Linked DNA regions of Homo sapiens: region 2 is linked to region 1. The links come from fine-mapping of genetic effects on gene expression. Tissue or cell type: stomach. Region 1 holds a variant in brackets; the other region holds the start of a gene. All regions are shown on one strand. Distances are between the middles of the regions. Region 1 has its middle 25 kb from the start of GPR160. Region 2 holds the start of GPR160 (G protein-coupled receptor 160).

Region 1 (8,840 bases):
CGGCTAATTTTGTGTTTTTAGTAGAGACAGGGTTTCTCCATGTTGGTCAGGCTGGTCTCGAACTCCCAGCCTCAGGTAATCTGCCTGCCTCGGCCTCCCAAAGTGCTGGGATTACAGGCGTGAGCCACGCCCGGCCCAAGACTCCATCTCAAAAAAAAAGCAGACTCTATATGAGTTTAGAATATATTCCTAAGGCAATCCTGTTGTCTCTACACTTGACACGGAACTATCGAGACATATGATACTGTGGCACGTGACACAGAACTATCAAGGGATCGGCACGGGTTGGTGTAGTTTAACCCAGAGATTCAATTCAAATGATGTCCCCAGAATTTGGCTTCTCTCAATCTCTCTTCTCTGTCCTTCTTCATGTTGGCTTCATTCTCAGGCTTCACGTGGTGGTAGCCTATCTGGACTTATAGCTTCCACACAGGTTCTGGAATTTACTATGATTAGACTCATTTGGGAATGACTTAAATAAGGAGTGACATTGAGCTGGAACTTAAAGGAAGAATGAGATTTGTGAATGGTTGCCCAAAAATAGCCTGAGCAAAGGCATAAGGATATGTGAGAGCTTGGAATGTTTGGGGAAGTCCAAAATTCTAACTCTTCAGAGGTATGTGTGGTGGGCATTGGAGGAGGTGAATAGTGAAGTGGCCAATTTTTATCCAGAATTTTAGATGGCATCCCTACCCAATCTACATAATTTTGGCGAACATCATTCCTCCTACTCTCTCTACTTGCTAAGGAATGACATAGATTGCCAGAAAACAACTACCAGAAGCTAAATGAGAGACATGGAACAGTTCCTTCCCTCACAGCCCTCAGAAGAAACCAACTCTACTGATGTCTTAATTTCACACTTCCAGCTTCCAGAACTGTGAGACAATACCTTTCTGTGGTTTAAGCCACCTAGTCTGTATTACTTTGTTATAGCAGTCTTAGCAAACTAGTATGGAAGGGAGAGCACAGATAAAAGATGTGTTATCAATCAAGTCACCAGTGTGAGCAAATAGATCCTAATCCCACTGGAGAACTCTGGCAGACAGTGTAGAATGTACAACTCAAAATTATCCTGCCAGACAGACCCCAACAGTAATGGGTAAAGATTTGAATAGATATTTTTCCCAAGAAGATATACAAATGGCCAGTAAGTACAAGAAAAGATGTTCAACATCATTCATCATTAGGGAAACACAAATCAAAACCACAATGAGATATGTCACACCCACCAGGATAACCACAATTAAAAAGACGATAATAACAAATGTTAGTGAGAATGTGAAGGAATTAGAACTCTCATTCATTGCTGGTATGAATGAAAACTGGCATAACTGCCTTGGAAAACAGTTTTCCAGTTCTTAAAAAGTTAAACATAGAGTTATCCTATGACCCAGAAACTCCACTCCCAGTTGTTACATACCCAAGAAGATTGAAAAAAATATTCGCATGAAACTCGTACATGAATATTCACAGCAGCATTATTCAGAATAGCCAAAAGCGGAAAAAAAATCCAAGTGTCCATCAACTGATGAGTGGTTAAACAAAATGTGGTATATCCATGCAATGAAATAGATTTCAGCAATAAAAAGAAATAGATTATTGATATATGGTACAACATGAATAAATCTTGAAAACATTATGTTAAGTGACAGAAGCCAGTCATAAAAGCCCACATATTATATGACTCCATACAATATGTTTTATATAAAATTTATATAAAATTTCCAGAATAGGCAAATCCATAGAGATGGAAAATAGATTAATGTTTGCTAGCAGCTGGTGGGAGGGTGGAATGGGGAATTACTGCTAATAAGTACAGAATTTTTGTTTGGAGTGATGAAAATGAACTGAAATTAAACAGTGGTGATGGTTGCGCAGCTATTTTTAGTTAATATACTAAAAACCACTGAATTGTACACCTTAAAAGTATGAGCTTTATGGTATGTGAATTATATCTTAATAAAAATAAGAGGGACAAAATATTTTTAAAAAATTTTTATCCTGCCTGGGGGTGGAGGGAGCTGGAGTATTTATCTACCATCTTCTAACCATCATTGGTTTGAAGAATGCTCTGGGGATATATTTGATTCCCTGGAGCTTGTGGCCTGATTTGTGTAAAGATTTCAGAACCAGAGAGAGCCTTCAGGCAAAGATGTGCGAGTGTTGACACTTGGAAGTTGGGCACATGTATTTTTAGGAGCTATCCTTTCCAAAAGTGTAGAAAGTTCTCTATGGCTTATGGGCAAGTGTCCTTGCCTTCTGGGCTTATACAATACTGACTTCTTGTTGGTCTGTCTTCATATAAGTCAAAAGTAATCCCTAAACTTGAAAGTTGAAGGATTATATATGAGGGCTTTCCATGAAACATTTATTATTCAATTGATTTTGAGATTAGCCACAGTTATCTTAGCTGCAAATGGTGGAAATCAACCCTGACTAGAATGACCATACAGTTATGCATCGCTTAACGATGGGGATACATTGAGAAAAATGAGTCATTTGGTGATTTTGTCTTGTGAACATTATCAAGTGCACTTACACAAACCTACTGTAACCTACTACACACCTAGGCTATACGGTAGAGCCTATTGCTTTTAGGCTACAAGCCTGTACCTCATGTTACTGTACTGAATACCATAGGCAATTGTAACACAATGGTCAGTATTTGTGGGTCTAGACATAGAAGAGATACAATAAAAATATGGTATAAAAGATAAAAAATAGTACACTTATATGGGGCACTTGCCGTGAATGGAGCCTGCAGGACTGGAAGTTGCTGTGGGTATCAGTGAGTGAGCGGTGAGTGAATGTGAAGGCCTAGGACATCACCGTACACTACTCCTGTAGACGTTATAAACACTGTACATTTAGGCTATATTAAATTTATAAAGAACTATCTTTGTTCAATAATGAATTAACCTTAGCTTACTGTAGCTTTTATTTTATAAACTTAAAAAATTTTTAAGTGTTTTTGACTCTTGTAATAACACTTAGCTTAAGACACAAAGACATTGTACTATCGTACAAAAATATTTTCTTTTTTTTTTTGAGATGGAGTCTCTCTCTCTGTCACCCAGGCTGGAGTGCAGAAGCATGATCTTGGCTCACTACGACCTCCACCTCCCAGGTTCAAGCGATTCTCTTGCCTCAGCCTCCCAAGTAGCTGGGATTACAGACGTGCACCACCACGCCTGGCTAATTTTTGTATTTTTAGTACAGTCGGGGTTTCACCATGTTGGTCAGGCTGGTCTTGAACTCCTGACCTTGTGATCCGCCTGCCTCGGCCTCCCAAAGTGCTGGGATTACAGGCGTGAGCCACTGCCCCCGGCCTATTTTCTTTCTTTATATCCTTATTCTGTAAGCTTTTTTCTCTTTTTATTTTCAATTGTTTAAACTTTTAAAGTTTTTTTGTTAAAAA[C/T]AAAGACACAAACGCACACATTAGCCTAGGCCTACCCAGGGCCGGGATCATCAGTGTCACTGTCTTCCACCTCCACATCTTGTCCCACTGGAAGGTCTTCAGGGGCAAAAACATCCATGGAGCTGTCATCTCCCATGATAAGAATGACTTCTTCCGGAATACCTCCTGTAGGACCTGCCTGAGGCTGTTCCACAGTTAATTTTAAAAAATATATAAGTAGCAGGAGTACAGTCTAAAATAATGATAAAAAGTATAGGATAGCAAATACATAAACCAGAAACATAGTCATTTATTATCAAGTGTTATGTACTATACATAATTTATGTGTTACACTTTTTTTTTTTTGAGACAGAGTCTCTCTCTGTTGCCCAGATTGGAGTGCAGTGGCGCCATCTTGGCTCACTGCAACCTCCGCCTCCTGGGTTCAAGCAGTTCTCCCTGCTTCAGCCTCCCGAGTAACTGGGATTACAGGGGCCCACCACCATGCCAGGCTAATTTTTGTAGGTTAGTAGAGACGGGGTTTCGCCATGTTGGTCCAGGCTGGTCTCGAACTCCTGACCTCAGGTGATCCGCCTGCCTCGGCCTCCCAAAGTGCTAGGATTACAGGTGTGAGCCACAGCGCTCAGCACGTGTTACACTTTTATATGACTGGGAGCACAGGTTTGTTTACACCAGCATCCCCACAAACACGTGAGTAATGTATTGCACTACCACATTATGATGGCTATGACATCACTAGGCAATAGGAAATTTTCAGCTCCATTATAGTCTTATGGGACCACCATCATATGTGAGGTCCATCATTTACCAAAATGTCATTATGCAATGCATGACTATAATAAAAAAAGATGGTTAATAACAAGTGTTCATGAGGACATGGAGAAATTGGAACCCTCATTCATTGCTGTAAAAAGAAAATGAATTTATTGTAAAAGTTTCAGTGGCCCCAAGACTTACTGGAAAAGCTGGAGAATCAGGCTCAAACGGTGGGAAAGAACAGAGGAAACCACACTGTGAGAACCAAAGCCAAAGTCAGGACACAGGAGGTGTTGCCAGAACACTGGTGCTTCCTTCAGCAGTGCAGGCTTGAAATGGTTACCTTCTCACACAGCGGATGAAGCCAGCATTAGGCAGGATTTTTAATCCGGGGCTACCTAAATCCAAAGCCACACACTCTTTTCTGAGTTTTCAATTTCTTTATAAGTAAAATGAACACAGAAGGCAACTATGAATAATGATGCCACAAGGGATTTAGACAGCGTCCCTAAGTGCCAGATGCAATTTAAGAGGTATTATTATTACATACAGCCAGAATCTACAATCATATCTCTGTCTCAAACAACTAATAGCCGAGGTTGCCAGGCAATTATATTTGTCAGGCACGAGTCTACAGTGAGCAGGTAAATGATCTACACCCCAGACACAATAAAAGATTTAGTCCCTCCTCCCTTTTGTACTAATCTCCAGCTCAGATTTTCTGATCCTATTCTGTTTGCCTCCATTTCGAAAGCCCTTCCCTCATCCTGTATTTTTACCACCTGGTTCTATGTGTCACCAAATCTTCCTTATTTGCAGTCAGCTTTGTGAAAGAACTTTCAATGCTAGTTACTCTAGAACAACAACTCTCACACGTTTTGGGCTCAGGACCTTTTAACTACTTTTAAAAATTATTGAGAATGCCAAAGAGTCCTGTTGGTGTGGATTATTTGCTGCGGTTAGAAATTAAAACAGGCAGCTAAGCGTGGTGGCTCATGCCGGTAATCCTGGCACTTCGGGGGGCTGAGGTGGGCGGATCACGAGGTCAGGATTTCGAGACCAGCCTGACCAACATGATGAAACCCCATCTCTACTAAAAATACAAAAATTAACCTAGTGTGGTGGTACGTGGTGCCTATAATCCCAGCTACTCGGGAGGCTGAGGCAGGAGAATAGCTTGAGCCTGGGAGGCGGAGGTTTCAGTGAGCCGAGATCACGCCACTGCACTCCTGCCTGGGTGACAGAGAAAGACTCCGTCTCAAAAAAAAAAAAAAAAAAAAAAAAAGAAAAGAAATTAAAACAGGCAGTGGCTCACCCTGTAATCCCAGAGCTCTGGGAAGCTGAGGTGGGAGGATTGTTTGAGGCCAGGAGTTTGAGCCCAGCCTAGGCCACATAGCGAGACCCTGTTTCTACGAAAAATTTAATTAGCTGAGTGTGGTGGCACATGCCTGTAGTCCACGCTACTCAGGAAGCTGAGACAGGAGAATCCCTCGAGCCCAGGAGTTCGAGTTAGAGTGAACTATGATCATGCACTGTACTCCAGCCTGAGCAACAGAGTGAGACCTAGTCTCAAAATAAAAGAAAGATTAAAACATAAATTTTTAGAAACAATAATAAAAGAGGACACATTAACAGAAATAACATGTCTATGAAAAATAACTTTTTCAGAAAGAAAATGTTTGTGAGATGAGTGGCTGTTTTACATTTTTAACAAATCTGTTGAATATCTGGATGAATAGAAGAAAGCTAGATTCTCATGTCTGCCTCCGCATTCAATCTGTTCCCATATCACACTGGAAAACTCCACTTATGCTTGTGAGAGAATGAGAGTGAAAAGGCAACAACATCAGTATTATTACGAAAATATTTTGACCTTAAAGATATTCTGGAAAGAGACAATCAGGAAATCCCCCATCACAAGTTGAAAATTGATGCCATTTTTTTTTTTTTTTTGGAGATGGAGTCGTGCTCTGTTTCCCAAACTTGAGTGCAATGGTGTGATCTCAGCTCACTGCAACCTCTGCCTCCCTGGTTCAAGCAATCCTCCTGCCTCAGCCTCCTGAGTAGCTGGTCTTATAGGTACACGCCACCACGCCTAGCTAATCTTTTTATATTTTTTGTAGAGACAGGGTTTCATCATGTTGGCCAGACTGGTCTTGAACTCCTGACCTCAGGTGATCCGAGGCCACCTTGGCCTCCCAGAGTGCTGGGATTACAGGTGTGAGCCATGGCGCCTGGCCCCAATGCCATTTTTGATGCTCTTTTTCCCTTTGTGTGGATTCATTTTTCCATCTGTTAAGAAACTGTAGCCAGGTGTGCTGGCTCACACCTGTAATACTAGCACTTTGTGAGGCAAAGGTGGGAGGATTGCTTGAACCCAGGAGTTTGAGACCAGCCTGGGCAACATAAGGAGACCTCTTCTCCACACACACACAAAAATTTTAAATTAGCCAGGTGTGAGCAGGAGCGGTGGCTAACTCATTGTAGTCCCAGCACTTTGGGAGGCTGAGGTGGGCTGATCACCTGAGGTCAGGAGTTCAAGACCAGCTTGGCCAACATGGTGAAACACCGTCTCTACTAAAAATATAAAAATTAGCCAGGCGTGGTGGTGTGCACCTGCAATCCCAGCTACTAGGGAGGCTGAGGCAAGAGAATAGCTTGAGCCCCGGAGGTGGAGGTTGCAGTGAGCCTAGGTCGTGCCACTGTCCTCCAGCCTGGGCAACAGAGTGAGACTCTGTCTCAAAAAAATATTAGCCACATGTGATGGTGCACACCTGTGGTCCCAGCTACTCAGGAGGCTGAGTGGGAGAATTGCTTGAGCCTGGGAGGTTTCAGCTACAGTGAGCCATGATCGCACCACTGCACTTTAGCTTGGGTAACAGAGTGAGACCCTGTCTCAAAACAAAACAAAAAGCCATCAAACTGTCTTCCAAAGTGGCTATACTATTTTGTGTCTCCACTAGCAATAAATAAGAGTTCCTGCCGTTTCCCATCCTTTCCAGGATTTGGTGTTGTCAGTGCTTTGGATTTTGGCCATTCTAGGCAAGATGGGGAATGTTCAGGGTGGCATGGCCGTAGGTTATTTTGGCCATTCTAATAGGTATGTAGTGGTATCTCACTGTTTTAATTTGCAGTTCCTTAATGACATATGATGTAGAGCATCTTTTCATAGTTTTTTTTTCATCTGTGTGTCTTCTTTGTTGATGTATCTGTTCGTTTCTTTTGCCCATTTTTATATTGGGTTGTTTCATATCTTATTAAATTTTGTGAGTTCTATGTATATTTTAAATACAAATCCTTTATCAGAGAGGTGCTCAGCAAATATTTTCTCCTGGTCTGTGGCTTGTGTTTTCATACTCTTTTGCAGAGGATAAGAGTTTTTTGTTTGCTTGTTTTTGTTTTTTTGGTAGAGATTGGATCTTGTTATGTTGGCGAGGCTGGTGCCGAACTCCTAGTCTCAAGTGATCCTCTTGCTTCTGAGAGATCAAGTGCTGGGATTACAGGCATGAGCCACTACGATTAGTTATAAGTTTTTACTGTTAAGGAAGTCCAGCTTAACAATTTTTTCTTTTGTGGATTGTGCTTTTGTGTTGTATCTAAAATTCATTGCCAAATCGGAGGTTTAGGTTGGGTTTTTAGTTTTTATTTTTATTTTTGAGACGGAGTCTCGCTCTGTTGCCCAGACGGGAGTGCGGTGGCAAGATCTCGGCTCACTCCAAGCTCCGCCTCCCAGGTTCAAGCAATTCTTCCGCCTCAGCCTCCCAAGTAGCTGAGATTACAGGCATGTACCACCATGCCCGGCTAATTTTTGTATTTTTAGTAGAGATGGGTTTTCACCGTGTTGGATAGGCTGGTCTTGAATTCCTGACCTCAACTGATCTGCCCGCCTTGGCCTCCCAAAGTGCTGGGATAACAGGCGTGAGCCACCGTGCCCGGCCGAGCTTGGATTTTTAAAAAGCCACTGAATTGTGAGTGATTTGTTACACAGTATTGTTTTTACAAAGGCTAAAATTGATGTGTAATCCTTTAAATTTATTCAAAGCACAAAATTCGATTCAAATAATTTTTTTTCCACCCAAACATTTCTGGAAAGGCAGCTAATACATCTGCTTATTAGATTTCAAGGCAGTCACTTCAAGTCATCTTATTGTTTTAATTTATAGTTTTTGAAAATTAAAGGGGGTGAGAGAGATTTGAGACATTTGTTCTGATTTTCCCTCAGCTCTCCACTTCTGGAGATCCACTTTTCCAGTTGCTTTTAGCTGATAGTGACATTCTCCTGTTGCCTAAACCTGAATCTGCTGTTCCATCTTGGGAACAGTCCTTCAAGTTCCCAAGCTTCTGATTATTATCAGCTTTGAAGTTCTGCTGATTTCCTGCTGTTAACCCAAAGACAGATCCCTTTACACTTTCTCCATTCTACCTCCAAACAGGGCATTTGTCCTGAGATGTGACAGCACCTGCCTGCTCGTGTGGAGTGATCATCTTTGATGTTTGTTTACATCTTTGTTATTCATGTAGCTAATTTGGAATCAGACAAGACCTGAACTGGTCAATGTTTCAAGAAAATTATTGTCAACCCTGCTGCACTCAAAAAATGGAATGCCCGGCCCAGCTCAGTGGCTTATCCCTATAATCTGAGCATTTTGGGAGGTGGAGGTAG
Region 2 (8,840 bases), 26 kb before region 1:
CAGAGGTTGCAGTGAGCTGAGATCACACCATTGCACTCCAGCCTGGGCAACAAAGCAAAAACTCTGTCTCAAAACAAAACAAAACAAAAAACAAAAATGTGTGTGAATGTCTGTAATCCCAGCACTTTGGGAGGCTGAGGCGGGCAGATCACGAGGTCAGTAGATCGAGACCATCCTGGCTAACATGGCGAAACCCCGTCTCTACTAAAAATATAAAAAATTAGCTGGGCGTGGTGGTGGGCACCTGTAGTCCCAGCTACTGGGGAGGCTGAGGCAGGAGAATGGCATGAATCCGGGAGGCAGAGCTTGCAGTGAGCTGAGATTGCACCATTGCACTCCAGCCTGGGTGGCAGAGCGAGACTCCATCTCAAAAAAAAAAAAAAAGTGTGTGAAGACTACCAGAAGACTACCATGAATTCTTTTTTTTTTTTTTTTTTTTTAAGAGAGAGAGTCTTGCCCTATCGTCCAGGCTGGTGTGCAATGGTGCAAACATAGCTTACTGCAGCCTAGAACTGCTGGGCTCAAGCCACCCTCCCCACCTCAGCCACCACCACACTGGCCAATTTTATTATTATTATTATTATTTATTTATTTTTTTTTTTTGTAGAGATGGGGGCCTCACTATGTTGCCCAGGCTGGTCTTGAACTCTTGGCCTCAAGCAAACCTTCCTCCCCTCAGCCTCCCAAAGAGCTGGGATTACAGATGCGAGCCACCACACCCAGCCCATGAACTCTTTTCTTTGGCCAATGAACTCTTGATAAATGTTAAATTTCCTTCCCTGTCTCCCTAAAGATGTGATTTAAAGCAATCTTCTTTAGATTTCTTTCTTTCTTTTTTTTTTTTTTTTGAGGCAGTATCTTGCTCTGTCACCCAGGCTGGAGTACAGTGGTATGATCACGGCTCACTGCAGCCTCAACCTCCCAGGCTCAAGCAATCCTCCCACCTCAACCTCCTGAGTAGCTGGGACTACAGGCGTGCACCACCATACCTGGCTAATTTTTATTTATTTATCTTTATTTTTTGTGGAGTCAAGGTCTCACTATGTTGCCCAGGCTGATTTCCTTATATTTCAATGTTCCCATCTGTTAAAAACCAAAATTGCCCTCTATCACCACTGCTTCGCCTCACAGGATGGGATGAGGTGATGCAGATGAAAGCGAAGTGTTTATGAATCTAGGAGAATACTGTTGACTAGATTGCCAACACTCTTTCCTATCATTTCTAGCCCAACAAGGGAGCCATTTGCTTTTCTAATGCGTTCATACCCTTAATAATGTGAATCAGGGCGAAATGGTGTCACATTTGTGGTAAGTCCTTAAAATGGCTATTAGCAATCAACTCTCCAGAGTCCAAATCTACCACTCTCCTACAGAGGAGAGTAAACATTAGTTTGGTCACTAAAGGGCCTGGCAAGTTTCTTTTCTCTTTCCATGCTTTTAGGGAACTAGAGAGGAAACTGAGGTATAAAATAAAGTTACGTGACGGTTGCATACTTCTTTCATTCATACCAAGAAAACAGAGCCACAAACCAAACAATTTCACTTCATTTAAGAACCATCATGAATTCACTGTGGTATCTCCCCCCACTGTAAGGGGATTTTTGTTGGTTGTCTCATTATTTTCCCATCACAGCAGTGAAATTAGGACATGCTTCAGCATTCCTCAACCGAATCTTAAAACATCTTTACGGCCGGGCGCGATGGCTCACGCCTGTAATCCCAACACTTTGGGAGGCTGAGGCGGGCAGATCACGAGGTCAACAGATGGAGACCACGGTGAAACCCCGTCTCTACTAAAAATTAGCCGGGCGTGGTGGCGGGCGCCTGTAGTCCCAGCTGCTCGGGAGGCTGAGGCAGGAGAATGGCGTGAACCCGGGAGGTGGAGCTTGCAGTGAGCCGAGATCACGCCACTGCACTCCAGCCTGGGTGACAGAGCAAGACTCCGTCTCAAAAAAAAAAAAAAAAAAAAATCTTTACATCCTTTAGACTAGTGAATCTACACGAGCAAGGTCTACGCCGGGGAGATTCACCGAACACTTCAACTTTTAACTGTCCCAGATCTCATCTCTTTGACTTGTTTTATCTTTAAATCAAAAGGCATTACATTCAGTTATACTGAAGCGACTAAAAAATGTGGATTTACCTTTTGGAAATATACCTCCCCTTCCTCCCTCTACTAACTTCAACAGCTCCCTCTCAGAATCACTATTCCAAAGTACTGACCAAGCATGACAGAATGAGTAGGAATTATAGGCTAAATCTGGAGAAAAGAAATCTGGAGCAAGCCTGATGAAGATATAGCTATTACTCCTTCCTTACCCTCTTTCAAGCATGATTCTTAAAAAAAATGTGTTACCACCATGCAGAACTTTTAGGAGTCAGTGCTTTGCTAAATATTTACATGTCATGATCGCTGAAGCAAACAAGATAAAGATGAAATAGGCAACACAACACAGCTAAGCTCTCTCTCAAGCAATAAGCAGCCCTCTACTCATCTTGTGCTTTGTTTTCATCATATACACTTTTTACTGAGGCATGCAATGCTTTCAGAAGTGTACATAAATCCTAAGTGCATACCGACACGTGTGTTCACTACTGCAAACTCTGTTTTTTGATGAACACAACTTGGAAGGGATTTGGGCAATTAGGAAAAACTGCTAACACGTTTTATACAATCCGCCCGACCGGAGGCAATCAACCCCCAGGCTTGCTAATGCCCTTTGTGTAAAAAAAGCTGACCTAGCCTCCACCTGCATCAACTTGATCCGCTCAGCTTTGTCACACTCAGCAAACACCCTCTGCCTTCTGAGCAAAATAAATCGGCACCTCCAGTAGGGAGAAAAAAACTTTTTATGACCGAGTCTGGAGAAGCAGCCTTGACACCCAATTTACAAAGAACGAGCGTCTGCGGAAGACCTTGCATCTAGACTCGGCTGCAGTGCCAAACCTACCTTATGCAAAAAAGCTCCACAAGTGGTGGTGTTCTGTTTAAAGGAAAATGCCAAACACACACAAATACTGAAACAATAGCATAAGGACTTCCATAACCATCATCCAGCTTCAACTATTTTTATTTTTGTTTTACTTTAAGTTCTGGGATACAGGTGCTGAATGTGCAGGTTTGTTAATAGGTATACATGTGCCATGGTGTTTTGCTGCACCTATCAACCCGTCATCTAGGTTTTAAGCCCTGCATGCATTAGGTATTTGTCCTAGTGCTCTCCCTCCCCTTTCCCCCCACCCTCCGACAGGCCCCCGTGCCTGAAGTTCCCCTGCCTGTGTCCATGTGTTCTTCCCAGCTTCAACTATTAACAATCCATGAACAATCTCCTCTCATCTTGTTCCCCTCCCTTCTCTGCTAGCATCTAAAACTGAATAATTCTGAAGCAAATCCCAAAGCTGTATTTCAACTTCAGTCTGTGTCTCTACAGGGATTTTAAAAACCTTAATCAGGATACCGTTACCAAAAGTAACTAAACAGAACTATTATAATTTCCTTGATACCATCAAATAATCAGTAGAAATGTCCTTCATCGTCTCCTTATTTATTTATTTATTTTGAGACGGAGTCTCGCTCTGCCTCCCAGGCTGGAGTGCAGTGGCGCCATCTCGGCTTACTGCAACCTCCGCCTCCCGGGTTCAAGCGATTCTCCTACCTCAGCCTTCCCGAGTAGCCGGGATTACAGGCGCGTGTCACCACACCCAGCTAATTTTTGTATTTTTAGTAGAGAAGGGTTTCACCATGTTGGCCAGGCTGGTCTCGAACCCCTGACCTCAGGTGATCCACCCACCTCGGCCTCCCAAAGTGCTGGGATTACAGGTGTGAGCCACCGCACTCGGGCATCATCTCCATTTTAAAAAACATTCATCAAATCAGGATCCAACCAACGTCCACACCTTGTATTGCCACCGAATTTCTCTTAAATCGTTTTGAAACTGCACACAGGTCCTCCTCCCTGCAATTCGCATAGCAACCAAGCTGATCCTCACTGACAATTTCCAAATAACTATAATAACTCTATTCTGGAGATATCACAAGTGCCGGTCTTAGAGCTTGTCAAATGTATACATATATGTTTATATTTATATATAAATGCACAAAAGCACACAAGAAACCATTTCACTCGAAGCAATAACAATCCTGAGAGCTAAACACTCGTTCATGTCTTTTGTGATGCTTCTCGGTGGGGGTTATCTCTGGGATTTAAGCGACACTTCCCCTTACCGGAGACATTTGCGCAAGTGTAGGACGAAGCGAGAGCGGTTCCTTCCAGCCGAACCTGCCTCCGGAGGCCCGGTCCGTGCGTTCGTCTCCGGACTGCAGGGGGCGGCCCTGCCACCACCTCGAGGCCACCTGCGCAGGTGAGAAAAGGAGTTTCAGTCTCCGGGTTCCTGGGGGTGGTCGCAGGTAATCTAGAGGGAATTTTGAGCCAGCCAGGATGGTCATCCAGGAACCTACCCGGACGCAACGGCCTCGGAAAACAAATAGCCGGGCAAGGCCCTGGGGCTTAATCCCAGTGGCGGGCGCGGGCGGGGGCGCCGTCCCCAACGCTCGAGGCCAGGGGAGGGGAGGCAAAGTCGGCCCCAATGAATGCACGCACGCGCGCGCGCGCGCGTGTGTGTGAGACTATTCACCTCTGGGCGCCAGGAAAGAGCGAAGAGTTGCATACACCCATTTCTATAACCTTGCTGGGTTTGTCATGTTTAAAAAGCATCTCCCCTGGAGAGAGGGTGGCGAGTCTCTGGGTGCGGGACACGCCCATTCCCCAGACCCCCTGCCCTCAAACCCACGACAGACCCCAGTTGCTAAGGCTCCGCGGTAATCCCCATCCCGAAGCAGGAAGGCTCGGGCGTCCGGGCTCCACTCCTGGATCTCTTAAGTAGCAGAGAACCCCCAGCCCCTGAGTTCCTGCAAAGGAAATTCCTTCCCCTCCCAGGCGCGCTGAACGCCCGGCCAGGGAGGCTGGGAGCGGCGCGGGGACCGTTCGCCGCCCCGAGGCTGGGACGCCGGTGGCGAGAGCGCCGGGCGCCCTCCACCTGCGCCCGCACTCACCCGAGGATCGATGGCTGTCGGCTCCGCAAGGTTGAGGCCCCGACACCTGCAGCGCCCGTGCCCAGGTGACCGCCCGAGGGAGGGGCGAGGGCCCAGCTCGCCCGCCTGGTCCCGCCCCGCCCCGCCCCGCCCCGCGCGCTCCCGGGAGGGGCAGGGGAGCACGGCCCCGGGACCCCGCGGCGACCCTGCTGTGGCTCAGCCGGCTCCAGACCAGGAAATGCGGGCGTCAGAGACGGGCAACCTTTGAGCGCGCACGTCCCGTCCGGGCCCAACGAAACAAGGGCCGGAGGGCGCCGCCTGCCGGCGGGACGGAAAGATATCACAGAGACTGTCACCCCCCGCCGGCTAGGAGAGGGCTGAGTTGAGGCTGGCAGAGGGACGCAGCCAGGGGTGCGCAGTGCGGGAGCCGCTTGGGGGCTCAGTGAGACCCCCTTCCTCATGCCACATCTTGAGGACCCGGCCCCTGTCCTAGGAGCTCCCCATCTCCCCAGCAGGCGGGCGAGCGGGGGCCACTGGGTCAGGGCCTCTCCTTCCCTTACCTCTGCAAATGTAAACTTGGCAGTTGTCTCCAGATAAGAGTTTACACAGGGTGGCCAGGCGGTGGCTCATGCCTGTAATCCTAGCACTTTGGGAGGTCAAGGTGGGCGGATCACTTGAGGTCAGGAGTTTGAGACCAGCCTGGCCAACATGGTCCACGTTGGTCCCCATGTCTACTAAAAATACAAAAATTAGCCGGGCTTGGTGGCACGCACCTGTAATCCCAGCTATTTGGGAAGCTGAGGCACGAGAATCGCTTGAACCCAGGAGGCGGAGGTTGCAGTGAGCTAAGACCGCACCACTGCACTCCAGCCTGGGCAGCAACAGCAAGACTCCGTATCAAAAAAAAAAAAAAAAAAAAAAAAAAAAAAAAAAAAGAGTATACACAGGGTGACAGAACTTCTTGAAACTTGTATGCTTCTAAGCAACCGCCTGCAGTGTACTGTGAATTCAGATTTTTAAATAAAAATCTGCAAATATTAAATAGCCCATATATTGCATTGCCTTTTTTGTGTCAACAGTGCTAATTTGTTGTCATTCAACAAATATTTGTTGAGCACCTACGACTTGCCGGTCATTTAAACATTTAAAATATCGAACAATTAGGCCAGCGCAGTGGCTCAAGCCTGTAATCCCAGCACTTTGGGAGGCCGAGGCGGGTGGATCACTTGAGGTCACGAGTTCAAGACCAGCCTGGCCAACATGGTGAAACCCTGCCTCTACTAAAAATACAAAAATTAGTTGGGCGTAATGGCACATGCCTGTAGTCCCAGCTACTTGGGAGGCTGAGGCAGGAGAATGACTTGAACCCAGGAGGCAGAGGTTGCAGTGAACCAAGATCACGCCATTACACTCCAGCCTGGGCAACAGAGACAGACTTCATCTGAAACAAATAAAATAAAATAAAATATTGCACAATTTCTTCCTTCTCCTCTTCACGCAGAGCCTTGAACAAGGGGAGTGTCCTGAGCCTCTCAACCTCTCTGAGTGTCATAGCAGTTAGAGATTAAAGATGACCATGTCCATACACGTTTGTATCTCTCCACAATGTCAGTCTTTTTTTTTTTTTAAATGCTATTTCAATCACAAAATCCAGGAGCTACATGGAGTTCCCAAGGAGGCAATTCTCCTTAGTCCTTCCCATTCACTCTGTAGTCAGAGCACATAGGTTCAAGCCACTCCATAAGTCAGTAAATATTGCAAACCATACATACTAGTATACTTAATCACTATACGAATGTTGTAGATTAAACATTCCACAACAAAGTAATATTTAACATCAAGACGAAGAAGAGGAGAAAGGGTTAATGAACCAGTCCAAAGGGAGGGAAGAAGACAAAGGGAGTCCTGGTCTGGGCCTGGTGGTCTTGCAAGGAAGAGTCTTTGATGTGGCAGAGCTTTCGGTGGCAAATTCTGAGTTCTTATCATGAGTGACTGCAAGACGGTGTTAGTGAAGACAGCCAAGCTGAAGGCTTCGCTCTTTTACAGTCAGAGGGTCCTCTGGTGAGAACTTATAGTGGATGAGTGTGCTTGTTTGTGTTCTTTTTTAAAATTTGTTCGTCAAGCAAAACATCTTATCCTTGTTAGCAAAGTGCCCATGAAATATAAAATGGAGGGTTTTTCTAAGATGGAATTAGTTACCTCAAGGGTGGTTTATACACTGAGAGTCTGGACTAGCCTTGCAAGGAACTCAGTAATTGCCCAAGGGTGCAAGAAGAACCCTGATAGAATTAAGTGTGGGTTGCTAGGGAGACTGAGGAGCAGCTTCACCTGGCCTGGAGTGGCAGAGAGAACTTCCTGGAGAAGTGCAGAGGCCAACTGAATCACAGAGGAGTACCGGGTTCAACGGGATGTGAGGTGCTTCCGCCAAGATTCCAACGTGTGCAAAGTGGGAAGTGGAAAGCCAGGCAGAGAGTTCATGTTCTAATAAGGGAATGGCAAGTGGGTCAGAAGACCTGAGAGGGAGAGGATGGGAGTTGAGTTAGAGCAGAGGGCATGGGGGCCAAATCATACTCATAACAAAAATAACCATCATCTAGGGAGTGGATAGTATAGAACAGGAGCTGGACATACATAACTTCAAACGAGCCTCACGCCAACCCTGCAAGGTAGGGTTATTACTCTCCTTTATAGAAGAGGAAAATGAGAGCCGGGCACAGTGGCTCACACCTGTAATCTCAGCACTTTGGGAGGCTGAGGTGGGCAGACTGCATGAGGTCAGAAGTTTGAGACCAGCCTGGCCAACATGGTGAAACCCCGTCTCTACTAAAAATACAAAAATTAGCCAGGCATGGTGGCGGGCGCCTGTAATCCCAGCTACTCAGGAAGCTGAGGCAGGAGAATCACTTGAACCTGGGAAGCGGAGGTTGCAGTGAGCTGAGATCACACCATTGCACTCCAGCCTGGGCGACAAGAGCGAGACTCTGTCTCAAAAAAAAAAAAAAAAAAAAAAAAGAAGAGGAAAATGAGACTGAGACCCAGGAAGGAGAGACATATTGCTAGTGACAAGGCTGGGGTAGGGTAGCTCTGAGCAGCCAGGCTGCCCTGTCAATGCCTCTCTCCAGGCGGATCTGGGAGGCTGGATTTATCTTCAAATACTTTCAGCATCCCCAAGTGCCTGCCACTCTCCCACCATTTCTTAAGCCGATGTCAACAACTGCCCTGAAGTCTCTCTGTCTAGAGATGATGTGTACATGGGTCCGCATACCAGACTCCTCCTGAGGGGAACTCTGTCTCAGGGGCTGGTGGAGGAACTGTGGCAGACAGAGACCTTGGTTGCTCCCCACTGTCCATTCTTTCCTTCTTCTGTAATAAAGTCATGTGCTGCAATGACATTCTGGTTAACAATGGATCACATCTACAACAGTGGCCTCACAAGGTTAGAATGGAGCTGACAAATTCCTATCACCTAGTGATATCTTGATGATACTGACCCTGTGTAGGCCTGCACCTTTGTTTTTAAGAAAAAAAGTTTAAAAGGTAAATAAATGCATTTTCAAAATGGGAAAAATAAGCTTATAGAATAAGAATAGAAGAAAATATTTTTGTACAGCTGAAACGTATTTGTGTTTTAAGGCGTATTATTACAAAAGAGTCAAAAAGTTAAAAAAAAATTTAAAGTTTACAAAGTAAAAAAGTTACAGTAAGCCAAGATTAACTTATTGTTAGTGTAGCCTAAATGTAGTGTTTATAAAGTCTGCGGTAGTGGACAGTAATATCCTAGGCCTTTTCATTCACTCACCCACAGCAA

The links.
Region 2: GPR160 starts here. The variant in region 1 is fine-mapped to the expression of GPR160 in stomach (GTEx, PIP above 0.99).

Annotation. Positions count from the first base shown.
Region 1 is chr3:170,008,877-170,017,716 of GRCh38, reverse strand. No RefSeq gene overlaps it. Among named protein-coding and RNA genes, the nearest start is that of GPR160, 25 kb to the left of the region's middle. The variant C/T (reference allele first, on the strand shown) is at 3,422.
Region 2 is chr3:170,034,429-170,043,268 of GRCh38, reverse strand. It overlaps GPR160 (G protein-coupled receptor 160), which reads right to left and starts at 5,274. Exons shown (of 4, transcript NM_014373.3): 1 at 5,054-5,274; 2 at 4,226-4,354. RefSeq lists silencers at 4,250-4,299, 4,460-4,509, 4,820-5,299 and an enhancer at 3,895-4,394.